Regions from separate parts of the Homo sapiens genome. Here all the other regions are reported to be linked to region 2. The links are microRNA targets in miRTarBase. Many come from high-throughput screens and were not tested one by one. Region 2 holds a microRNA gene; each other region holds the end of a gene's coding sequence.

Region 1 (4,000 bases), not on the chromosome of region 2:
ACAAAATCCCCTGCTTGGTTTTTGGCGTTTTTTTCCTATTCTAAATCAAAGACCACAGCAGACCAGAATCCTGTGGCTTCTCAAATGACCAAGCCTGACATATTGAAAAGCAGATCGTCTTGCTTTGAAAAACCTTCTCCACCCACCCCCGCAACCAATTTCAGCTGATTAAATTCAATCACTCATGCCTTAAGACTGGCAATGATTTGTTGACTTCAACTTGAATATCTGCATCTTATTTGTGCCGTGTGTGTTTTCTGCCATAAAAAAAATTTATATTGCAATAGGACTATAGCTACAAGTTTAAAATAGATTTATAAAAAATCTATCCCAACCATGAAGATTTCTTTGCTAAATAATGTGTTTTCTTACAACCCACAGGCGAGGAAACGAGACCTCTTTCGTTCCTTCTAGAAGGTCTGGAGGACGTAGAGTTATTGAAAATGCAGATGGTTCTGAGGAGGAAACGGACACTCGAGACGCAGACTTCAATGGAACCAAGGCCAGTGAATAAGCAACTTTCTACAGTTTTGCACCACGGCAAGAAAACCAAAAACCAAAACAAACAAACAAAAAAAACCCAACAACAACCCAGAACAAAGCAAAACCCAGCAGACTGTACTTAGCATTGTCTAAATCCATTCTCAAATTCCAAATATCACAGACACCCCTCACACAAGGAATATAAAAACCACCACCCTCCAGCCTGGGCAACGTAGTAAAACCTCATCTATACAAGAATTTAAAAATAAGCTGGGCGTGGTGGTACACACCTGTGGTCCCAGCTACTAGGGAGGCTGAGCCAGGAAGAACGCTCCAGCCCAGGACTTCGAGGCTGCAATGAGCTATAATTGCATCATTGCACTCCAGCCTGGGCAACAGAGACCCTGTCTCAACCACCACCACCACCACCACCCCTACTACCCCTGTATTCAAGGTAAAAATTGAAGTTTGTATGATGTAAGAGATGAGAAAAACCCAACAGGAAACACAGACACATCCTCCAGTTCTATCAATGGATTGTGCAGACACTGAGTTTTTAGAAAAACATATCCACGGTAACCGGTCCCTGGCAATTCTGTTTACATGAAATGGGGAGAAAGTCACCGAAATGGGTGCCGCCGGCCCCCACTCCCAATTCATTCCCTAACCTGCAAACCTTTCCAACTTCTCACGTCAGGCCTTTGAGAATTCTTTCCCCCTCTCCTGGTTTCCACACCTCAGACACGCACAGTTCACCAAGTGCCTTCTGTAGTCACATGAATTGAAAAGGAGACGCTGCTCCCACGGAGGGGAGCAGGAATGCTGCACTGTTTACACCCTGACTGTGCTTAAAAACACTTTCACTAATAAATGGTTATAAATCACAATGTCGTTGGCTTTTCTGTTGAGCTGTTTTCTATAGAGGAAAAGGAGTTGGGGAAGGCTGGGTTTTGCTTCATCGTCCCAAAGATTCTCTGAAGTCAGGGTTAACGTCATGAATGCAGAAACTGAGGCCTAGAGAGGTGAAATCAATTGCCTACAACCCCACAGCCAGCCAGAGAGCAGAGCAGAGATGCAAAGTGAGACTGTCTAAGGGGGTTACTGGGCCGCTCAGCAGGGAGGGCAGGGGAGAGAAATAAGGTGATGTGTGGTCTAAGGGCCACTGCCCCCTGCCCTCGAACATGACTGGGAAGAACATCTTGACTCATCAAAACCAGTATCTTAAGAAAAATACAGGATTTCCTTGATTTTTTGAGTTAAAACACAAGGTCTTGTCCAATGAGTCAGCAAACACTTTCCACAAAACGTCAGATGGTGGCTGGGTACAGTGGCTCACACCTGGAATCCCAGCACTTTGGGAGGCTGAGATGGGAAAATCACTTGAGGCCAGGAGTTGGAGGCCAGCCTAGCCGAGAGAGACCCCCGTCTCTATAAAAAAAAGGTGTTTTTTTGTTGTTGTTGTTAGTAAGCCAGGCAGGATAGTGCACACCTGTACTCCCAACCTCTTGGAAGGCTAAGGCAGGAGGATCATGTGAGCCAGGAGTTCCAGGCTGCAGTGAGCTATGATCACGCCACTGCACTGCAGCCTAGGTAACAGTAACACCTTGTCTCTCACACCACCACCACCACCCACCCAGCCAGATAGTATTTTAGCCTTTACAGGCTACATATGGTCTTGCCGAATATTCATCTTCTTTAAAACAACCCTTAAAAACATAATAAATCATTCTTAGAGTAAGGGCCATAAAAACAAGCTGTAGGCCCTGTCCTTCTTTCAGCTTGAGTGTTTTAGACAGACATGCCTGCAAAGGCTCTGTTCAACACAAACGATGCCGTATACCACCAACTCCATGGGATCAGACAGATTTGGGAGACAGGAAACATGGAAACAAAGGACTCCATCTTGTGACCAGATGCTAATATGCCTTGAATGACGCACAAACACATCCCGGATACATTTCTAAAAACCTGGCTTGAATAGAAATTTTCAAAAAGATTTTTTCATATTTTTTAACTTGGTTAAAAAAAGTTTTTCACCACTCTGTGGGAAAACATTAAAGTATAAACATACAAAGCCTCTTTGACCAGAAGCCCAACAAGTTCAACATTCGTTTCTCTTGATTTTATTGATCTTTTAAAAAAATAAAAGGACATCTTCTGTGGATACAGGTTAGGATGTTTCTAGGGTAAGAAACCCACCATCGCAGCGTAATTCTCTGCGGAATTTCAGTAGCACTTGGAAAGTTCTGTTTTCAACCTGAAATTTTTGCTGTTCTTCCAGAAAATAACTTAGTAACAAAATGAAGGCCGTGAAGCTGCAGGCACACTCCAGAAATTAGTGTGTTCTTTTAACTCGTGTCCCAAAGAGACAGCAGTTCCTAACATGCAGTGATGAGTGGACACACCATGGTGCGTTGGAAATCCCACGTTCACGTCTTTGACAAGGAAGCCTCCTACAATGATCTTGTGCTTTAATTTTACTTGATGGTCACCCTGGTTACTTCATTATGCCTTTGAATGAAGTCCTGTTCTTAGTGGCTGCATTACCAAGGCCATCTTGCCCCAAAGACCCCTCAGGGTCCTGAGGCAGAATTCCCCCCACCCCACCAGGGGACTCAGGAAAATGAATGATCGCAGTTTGCCAAAAGAGGTCAGATTTCCCACTGACGCTGGTTGGTCTGGAAAATTACTCTGAAAACTCGAACGCACCTCTAGGAATCTCAATGAGAAGCTAAGAAGCAGGCTACAGTCTCAGAGGTTTATGACACCTTTTTTTTTTTTTTTGGAGACGGAGTCTCACTCTGTTGCCCAGGCTGGAGTACAGTAGCGCAATCTTGGCTCACTGCACCCTCCACCTCCCGGGTCCAAGCAACTCTCCTGCCTCAACATCTGGAGTAGCTGGAATTATAGGCACGCACCACTGCACCCAGCTAATTTTTTGTATTTTTAGTAGAGATGGGGTTTCACCATGTTGGCCAGGCTGGTCTTGAACTCCTGACCTCAGGTAATCCACCCGCCTCGGCCTTCCAAAGTCTTAGGATTACCGGCCTGAGCCACCGCGCCCAGCCTATTCCAGTTTTTAAAAAGGCATGTGACTGTTAAGTTCTCTGTTCTTAGACATGATTTCAGTACACCACAAAGCACTGGGAGATTTTGTTCTGGAAGACGATTCCACCTGGTTGGGAGTTGGGGGGAAGAGCCTCTGAGAGAAGCTCCATCCCACATTTACGGAGACTTGGGACATTAAAAACACCTGTCAAGACCAATCAGGGGCCAGGCACGGTGGCTCAGGCCTGTAATTCCAGCACTCTGGGAGGCTGAGGCGGGAGGATCACTTGAGGCCGGGAGTTCAAGACCAGCATGGCCAACATGGTGAAACCCCGTTTCTCACTAAAAATACAAAATTAGTGGGTGTAGTGGCACACTCCTGTAGTCCCAGCTACTTGGGAAGCTGAGATAAGAGAATCGCTTGAACCTAGGAGGCGGAGGCTGCGGTGAGCCGAAATTGCACCACTAC
Region 2 (4,148 bases):
TTAGCAGAAAAATGTCCAGGAAAGCTATACCAGACTCCCTCTCCACCATGACAATGCTTCTGCTCATTCTTCTCATCAAACAAGGGCAATTTTGCCAGAGTTTCAGTGGAATGTCACTAGGCATCCACCTTACTGTCCTGATTTGGCTCATTTGGACTTTTGTTTCCTAATCTTAAAAAAATCTGTCAGAGCACTCATTTTTCTTCAGTTAATAATGTTAAAAAGATGGCACTGATGTGGTGAAATTCCCAAGACCCTGTTCTTTAGGGATGGAATAAATGTCTGGTATCATTGCTTACAAAAGTGTCTTGACCCTGATGGAGCTTACTCTGAGAAATAAAATTTATATTTTTTATTTGTAGCTTTTAACTCAATGTTTCCATGAATATTTTGAAGCCCCCTCATATATATATTTATATATATAAATACATATATAAATATATATAAACATATATAAATATATATAAATATATATAAATATATGTAAATATATAAATATATGTAAATATATATAAATATATATATAAATATATATAAATATATATAAATATATATATAAATATATATAAATATATATAAAAATATATATAAATATATATATAAATATATATAAATATATATAAATATATAAATATATAAATATATATATATAACTTCTCAAGCATGCTTAATAATCCTACTTACTCATGTCACAAAACAGGCTAGTTAACAACTAGAACATATCTAGAAGAATAATACTAAACAAAAACCAAAATTATATAGCTTTATATCAAAGTTTTCCATAGTCAATGAAAGAAATATTCTGGAATATTTAAATACACTTGGTTTTGGAGGACAAGGCAATAAAAAGATTGAATAAAATTAGATATTTTACATAGATACACAAGATGTTTATATTTTGACACATTATATATTTTCTTGTAAGTTCCATGAGAAAAAGGACTTTGTTTCTGTTCTCTGCTATATCCCCTGTGCCTAGAAGTTCACATAGTAGATGCTCAATAAATAATTCTTGAATGATGAATGAATTTCAGCATGTATTTCAATAAGCTTTGAAACACCTACATTCATGACTAAAAGTTAACCATAAATTTAGATCTGGAATATTTGAATGTCCCCCCTTTTAATTTAGGCAGAATAATAAAATGCTATGGCAAAGCATATGCATCATTCTCTGCTGCTTAGAGTTGCTTTTCCCCTTACCCATATTATCTGCCTCTCCTAGCAGAAAGCAAAATTTCAAACATCTATAACAATTATTTCTTTGAGAAGACTGTAGAGCATTGTTTCAAAGAGGGTTTTCTTAAGCCTGTAGGCAAACCTAAAAAGGTAAATGACTCAATCAAGCTGGCACTTCAACAGTGTCTACCACTGCTTCAAGGCCAGCCTGTTCAAATACTTCCCTGAAATCACATGCTAAAGTCATTGTATTTAAACTTTTTTTCTATAAACTCATATGAAACAATTACTCCTATTGTATTAGGCTCTACAGTCAGTGCGGAGGTAAAATTAAAAGCTCCTCTAATACTTCTAAAGTAGTAGAGTGTCTTTTAGTTTAAATGACTGATATATGCTGATATGCCAAGACTAGAGTAATTTTGTTCAGATTTGTTTAATTTTTAATAGAAGCATTAAGTTAATTATTTAACTTCTTAAGGGCTTGTTATATAAAAATATGCCTTATTTAAATATTCTCTTTAACAAGAAGGCTTATTTCATAATAATTTTAAATAAATCAGCAATGGACTCAAATTTCAGGTAAGTTACATTCTAGATTAGATGTTTAATAGACCTTTGATTTAAACGATTTACATGAAAGAGTTTTTCTGGTTAAGGCTGAACTTATGAGTTCGTTCTGTAGATTTTTCTTAAAATTAACTTCTTGCATCCCATCCCTTACCTCTACATTTTCCTTCCTCTCCCGTCCTCCAACAACAATTCTATTTTTTCCTGAAATGTGTAACTATATTCTAGCTTTAAAGAGCAGACCTTATTGTTTGCCATTACAATTCCTAAAGCATGGGGCTCCAAGGTGCCTTTGATCCCTGATAAAATAGCAAGTCCAAGGACACTAGAATTTTTGCTTCAAGAAAAGCAGACTTCAGTGTGGAATGCTCTCAGGTTAAAGGAGAAATGTTTAGCTTAACGTATAGGTAATGTGTTGCTTTTACAGATCAGACTGCAGCAACCCACAAAATGTAGCCTCATACAAGTTAACCAGAACTTTTGTCACTTGGGTATTTGGTAATCTTTTTTTTCTTTTTAAACTAAGTGAAACAGTTCAAATATAACTGATATTATAGATTATCTTACATTTCTTTGGATGACTTAGTCAATTCACCTTTTTTCCTTTTACAGTTGACCTCAGAAACAAACACGGGATAGGATCAATTCTAAGACATAGAAATATTCAAAATCCATTTCTCTTTAGTTGACTTCCAAGGCAGAAAGAGTAAACAGCCTTCTCCCAGCTTTCTTACTTTCCACAGCTGAGAGTGTAGGATGTTTACAGTATCTGTCGCTCAGTGCTCTCTAGGATGGGGTTGGCAGTCAGCAGCACAAGCCTCAGGAAACCCAGTACCATTTGAAGATACCATAATATGTCACAGGAAAAGATCAGAAAAGTATACTTGGGACTAAATTATGGCTCTTTTAGGAGTAGGGTTGGAAGGGTGGGTGGGGAGGCTATATGACACTTACTTAGTGCTGCCTGCTCAGTTCTTGTTTTCTTCCTGTTTTGCACATCCTAAGATATTCCTAAGGTCTCTAGCTTTGAGCTTGCACACTCACGGATTTGGTTAATTTTGGATTTTCAATATTCTATGCTTTCCCAAAAGGGTTTCAAAATATTCGCCAAACTCCTTCCTTAAACAGTACATAATCCCTTTCTGACTGTTGGGAGACATGAAATGCAGCTTCTCACTCTCTGGGCTATACAACTTTGTTTCAGCTCACTCCTGCACAGAACTGAGAATAATGGCTAAACAGAAGACCAACAGTTTAATTACTGAAAATTAGTTACCTTAATGATGGGATACACAGTAATAAATTTAATCAAATGAGCAAAAAGTAAATATGTTAGAATACAACTTTACATGCATAAAAATGGTATATTGCAAATTGCTAATATAATGCTAAAATTATTTTAAAAATTCATATTCGGACAGAAGTGAACCTACAATTAGAGGCATACACATGAATGGAGTCAGTTGCTTCCTAAAGTTATTTTCTAAGAATGACTTATTCAAATAGTTCTTGGACTTCATTTGCTAAACTGGTCTAAGGTACACAAAATACTTGGGCGAAGAAGAAAGTCATCATTACTATACATCTCAGAACAAACCTACCTGATAAGAGACTACACTGTAAACCCAGGTGGCATATAATTCCAAACTGTTACAGGATCTTACTCATTTCATTCATTCATTCATTCATTCAACAAACAATTGTGACTGCCTGCCATATATCAGCAATGTTTTAAATTCTAGGTGATGAGAAATGAAGGGTATCATCCCTACCTTCGAGAAGGACACAGCTTAATTTGCAAGACAGACACATACACCATTACTATAAGTGTTATGATGGGTCAAAAGACACTTCTGAGTTGGCTAATAGCCAGGCTGAGTCTTGAAGCCTGAATAAAATTAGCTAGGTGAAGATGGTGCTAATGGGAATTTGGAAGGGGTGGGCAGTGAAGAAGATAGTGTAGCTTAAAGTGTACCAGAAAGAACAGTCATCCAATAGAGAAAGAAAGACAAAGGTAATGTATGCTGAGGCCTTTAAGAATTCAGCAGAGGTGGAGTCAAAGATGCATGTGGGTGAAGGGTAAGGGGAGAGACACAAGGGAAAGATGGGAGTCCTTATGTGCCAGGTTAAAGGGTTTGGGCATTATCTCCAAACGATGGGTACGAGTGAAAGATAGTAAGCAGGCAAGTGGGATGACCATGTCAGTACTTTAGAGAATTTACTCTAGCTTTAAGGTGGCAGGTAAGGAAAACAGGAAAAGAATCACTGCAGTAGTGTAAGGGAGAGCATGGGAGCCTTAATTAGGGAAGAGGCAGTAAGAACACAGAGAAAATGAATATGAGAAATTATAAAGACAAGAAGAACAGCAGAATTCAGTGAGTGAGTAGCTGAGGGGAGAGGCA
Region 3 (4,000 bases), not on the chromosome of region 2:
GCTCAGGCTCTCTAAGGATCTAAAGGAATGGATTTCACTTTTCTGATATTGCCCAGCCCCACCCACTCCCATTCAGTGCATGCATCCTAATTCAGAGATGGAAAGAACTGGCCTTCTGGCCTTTGTAGGTCTGAGTCAGGACCTGCCCTTGATGGAAATAGGAAACAGTGATTTGATTGCAGGAATGTTGGAAAGGGAGGAATTTTGTCCCAAATTATCACCTCTTTGGTTCTCTGAAGCCATAACATTACTTTGACAAGGGAAAAGTTTTTCCTTCCACAATTAGAACTAAGGCGTAAAGTGTAAATAGCCTGGTGAAAAGCTAACACTTTCGGTTACAGTCTCCTATGCAAGGGATTCTTTGAAAGATACTATGTTGGGGTGGAAAGGGGAGGATACTCAGAATAGGGTGGAGGTACCAGATGGAAAAATGTGACAGGTTCCTGAAGATGATATCCCTGTTTTACATTTTGCCCAAAGAGAACACAGAGATTCTTTTTATTTAAAGGGGACGGGGTGAAACATGAACATTTGAGGCTGATTCCCTGTGGGAAAAATCATTCAAATCTATTCACTCATCTGATGGCTGTTGCTTGTTTTATTTTTTGTCCAAGAGAGGTGGTGTTGGACCGAGGTAGAGAAGACAGTGGTACACCAGAAATAACCCAAAGGATTGCCCCTTCTGTAGAAGGCCCTTAGACTCCATGATGCCTTTCAGCTGGGTGCTATACTTGCACCTAACTCTGGGGGCTTCACTTTCTATCCCTACAATTACTCAAACAGATAAAAGGCTGGATGTTAACATGTAGTTATAAGGGGCGTGATCTAATAGTAAGGAATATCACTTCCCACAAGTCCTTCAAACAAGATTTGTGAGGAGCTGGATTTGTCAGCATGTCAGATCTTTTTGAAAACCAGAGAGTAGAATGTAAGCAATACCCTTGTCGTAATTAAAGACCAGACTCCATCCTTATACCACTGATGCCTCTGGTACCTTAATCCTTAAAATATTTAGTGACCCTTGCCTTCTAATTCTTGACACAAATATATAATGACCATTTTAGATCGGGGAACTCCCTTTCTTTGAAGGCAGTTTAGGGATTCCACAGATGGGCTTTGAACCTGCTAAATGTGTATGGAAAACTGAGTGAATTACAAATGTCTTTTTCTCAAAAGTGCGTTTCTGGTTTCTGTCAGATTCAACAGGTCTGTACCCAAGACAGGTTCTGAACCATTGCTTATGCAGAGCTTTTAGTATTAAAGAGGGAGAGTAAAAGAAATGTCAGAGTCCAGATTTATCACTGAACCCAATACTTTCTTACTCCCTGGGGCATCTCCTAATACTGATCCTAAAATGCTCCTGTTTCTGAGAAGCTAGGGCAAGACCTGCCTTACAAAGACCAGCCATTTTGCCTTATTCATAGGATCATAAGCAAGAGAACTGCATTCCAGGAAGAATGAAGGAAGAAGGAAGGCTGCTCACAGTAGCAGAAGGGAGGCAGGGGCCAAGCTGTTCAAGTCACATAAACTCTAAGAAGCCCAGTCAGCAAAATAAGTCTATCTTCAATTCTAGTTGAGTCCAGGACTCTGAGGAGCTGTGATTCACCCAGTTTTTCCTGCAAAAGGCACAGTCGCTAAACTAAATTGGTGCAATTCACTTCCTCTTGCCTCTCTGGTTCATTCCACCAATTGTGGTTGAGAAACACATCTTAGGGAAGAAACAGTATCTAAGCATTAAAGAGAAAATATCCCACTTTGCTCCTCTTCCTCCCTAACCCCGAACTGCTCTTACATACAAGATAATTTTTAAATTATAAGATTGGTATTAACACAATTATTGATAAAGAGAAACAATGACCAACTCATTAGCTAACGATGCTAGAATACTTATGCAAGCCCTAGAGTTAAGGGTCTTAGTGTGGACACCTTTCCAGAATTGGAAGGAAAACCAACCAGAAAGCTTATTACCCTGCAGCAGCTGAAAAGCTAAGCCACAGCCATTTTCCCTAAAGTTCTGTTTCTGGGAGAATGAGATCTTCAAGAATAACTCTTGCCCCTTGATGAGGCAGTCAAATTCAAACCAGTGATGGCAACAACTTGCAAACACGTAATTCCTGCCCTAATTTTCCAGCACTTAAAACAAAATCCCCACTCAATACAAAGTTTCTATGTGCCTCTTGCCTGAAATCAACAAGAAACAGCTCACCTCCCCAAAGACTCCTCTTTCTCTGCCAGGGCAAAAGCAATCTGCAGCCCAGAGATTCAAACCTAGACATACACATCCACAATTGTCTTAATCTCAGCAGTACTGGGAAAGCTTTGTACTCAACTTAACCTGTCATTTAACCCTTTCCACTAGTTCTCCCTTAACCAGACTGCTTCCTGTCTTGAAACAAAGAAAAAACCCCATATAATCCCCACTACCCTCATCCCCAGAACACAGCCCCTAGAAAACCTAGCTTGTACAGTTTGCACATAGCATGCTGTCTTCAAAGACCCTGCACACAAATACACAGACACATAAAGACAGTCAAGAGGAGAGAGGGGACTGTTCAAGGGGATAAAGTTTTTTTTGTTTTTCTGTTTTTCTGTGTGGGCCAGGGCTATTTGGGGGTATTAGATCATCTCTTAGCCTTGTAGTGTGATCTCTCAGCTGGATATATGTATGTGCAGGATGAAGGGAGTAGGAATAATGGGTAAAAAGGTTATTTTTTCAGCAGGTGAGGGTGAGAGGTGATGTATATACTGCTGATTGGCATAAGGAAGACAGACCCACACATGAACAAGGTCTGGCCCCCCTGGCTTTCATATGGATAAAAAAGGGGGCTCTGGATGCCTGATCACTATCTCTTGTTTCCTTGTTACTCTCTAACCCAGTGTTCACCAGAGTGTTTCATAGTCACCAGTTCTGTGGGATGTAAATAGAAAGGATACTGAGGTCAAATACATTTAGGAAACACTGCCTTAATAGAACCTTCAGTTGGGTCTACTGCAGAAATTTTCAGAGCCTTTAATATTCTAAAATGGCCTTTCTGTCTATATATAGAGAAAATATAATAGTAACAGTATGCAAGAGTGATACTCAAAATGTTTAACAACTGGTATAGCATAGACTCCAACCAATCAGAATGGATTTCAGCCATAAACTGCCAGTACCACTCTCCTCTTGAGAACAGCTCAGGCTGAATATCAGCCCATGTAGGATGCATTGCTTCCCAAAAGTTTTGCCCAAAGAACTCTATTTTTATGTGCTATCTCACAGAACTGGTGAGAAATGCTCTGGCCATTGCTGGGACCTCATCTTTCTAGGGATGGGGTCAGGGCTTATGATTCTGGCCACTGGGGTTCAGGAGAACGGCAGCCCTGGCAGTGACTCCTGGTAGCACCGGCTGATAGACTTGACCATAGCTGTAGTGGAAACAGATTTCAAAAGACAGATGTTCCTCTGTCCCAGCTGTTCCGGGGACTTTGTCCCTGGTGGGTGAGCAGGTGCCTGTCCAGGTGATGTTTTCGGCCAAAGCTCTTCTCACAGCGAGGGCACTGGAAGGGCTTCTCCCCAGTGTGGGTCAGCCAGTGTCTCACAAGGTGGTGCCTTCGGCCAAAGCTCTTCCCACATTCAGTGCACACGTGACACTTTGGCACTGGTGGGGCACGCTGCCGTTTCCTTGTGCCAGGGCTCTCTCCAACCTCTTGGCCTTTGCAGGATTTGCCTTCTGCATGCACTCTCTGGTGGCTGGCCAGATGGGAGTTGCATCGGAAATTCTTACCACACTCAGAGCACCTGCTGGTCTTGTCATGTAGGTGGGTTTTCTGGTGCCTGATGAGGTGATGTCTTCGCCCAAAGGTCTTCTCACACTTGAGGCAGCTGTAGGGTCTCTCCCCAGTGTGTGTTTGTTGATGCCTGGCAAGGTGGGAACCCCATACAAACTGTTTCCCACACTGGGGGCATGTGTGGGGTCTTAACAGGGAATCCATCTCTGTGCTACACAGCAGGTTTGAG

What was found. The annotated mature microRNA hsa-miR-30c-2-3p reads CUGGGAGAAGGCUGUUUACUCU and lies in region 2 at 2,450-2,471, opposite strand. An mRNA with a match to its seed (bases 2 to 7 or 8) in the 3' UTR can be bound and repressed. Matches are read on the target gene's strand: a 7mer-m8 pairs with bases 2 to 8, a 7mer-A1 pairs with bases 2 to 7 and ends in A, and an 8mer does both.
Region 1: miRTarBase lists MYH11 as a target of hsa-miR-30c-2-3p. Seed matches in the 3' UTR shown: 7mer-A1 at 1,132-1,138.
Region 3: the mRNA of ZNF641 is a reported target of hsa-miR-30c-2-3p. Seed matches in the 3' UTR shown: 7mer-m8 at 2,022-2,028.

Annotation. Positions count from the first base shown.
Region 1 is chr16:15,700,505-15,704,504 of GRCh38, reverse strand. MYH11 (myosin heavy chain 11) reads left to right here. Exons shown (of 41, transcript NM_002474.3): 41 at 382-1,370. The coding sequence ends at 514. All of the region lies in intron 8 of NDE1 (nudE neurodevelopment protein 1), which reads right to left. Among named protein-coding and RNA genes, the nearest start is that of NDE1, 52 kb to the right of the region's middle.
Region 2 is chr6:71,374,515-71,378,662 of GRCh38, forward strand. It overlaps MIR30C2 (microRNA 30c-2), which reads right to left and starts at 2,517; the gene lies at 2,446-2,517.
Region 3 is chr12:48,339,547-48,343,546 of GRCh38, forward strand. It overlaps ZNF641 (zinc finger protein 641), which reads right to left. Exons shown (of 6, transcript NM_001172681.2): 6 at 1-4,000. The coding sequence ends at 3,427. Among named protein-coding and RNA genes, the nearest start is that of ZNF641, 9.4 kb to the right of the region's middle.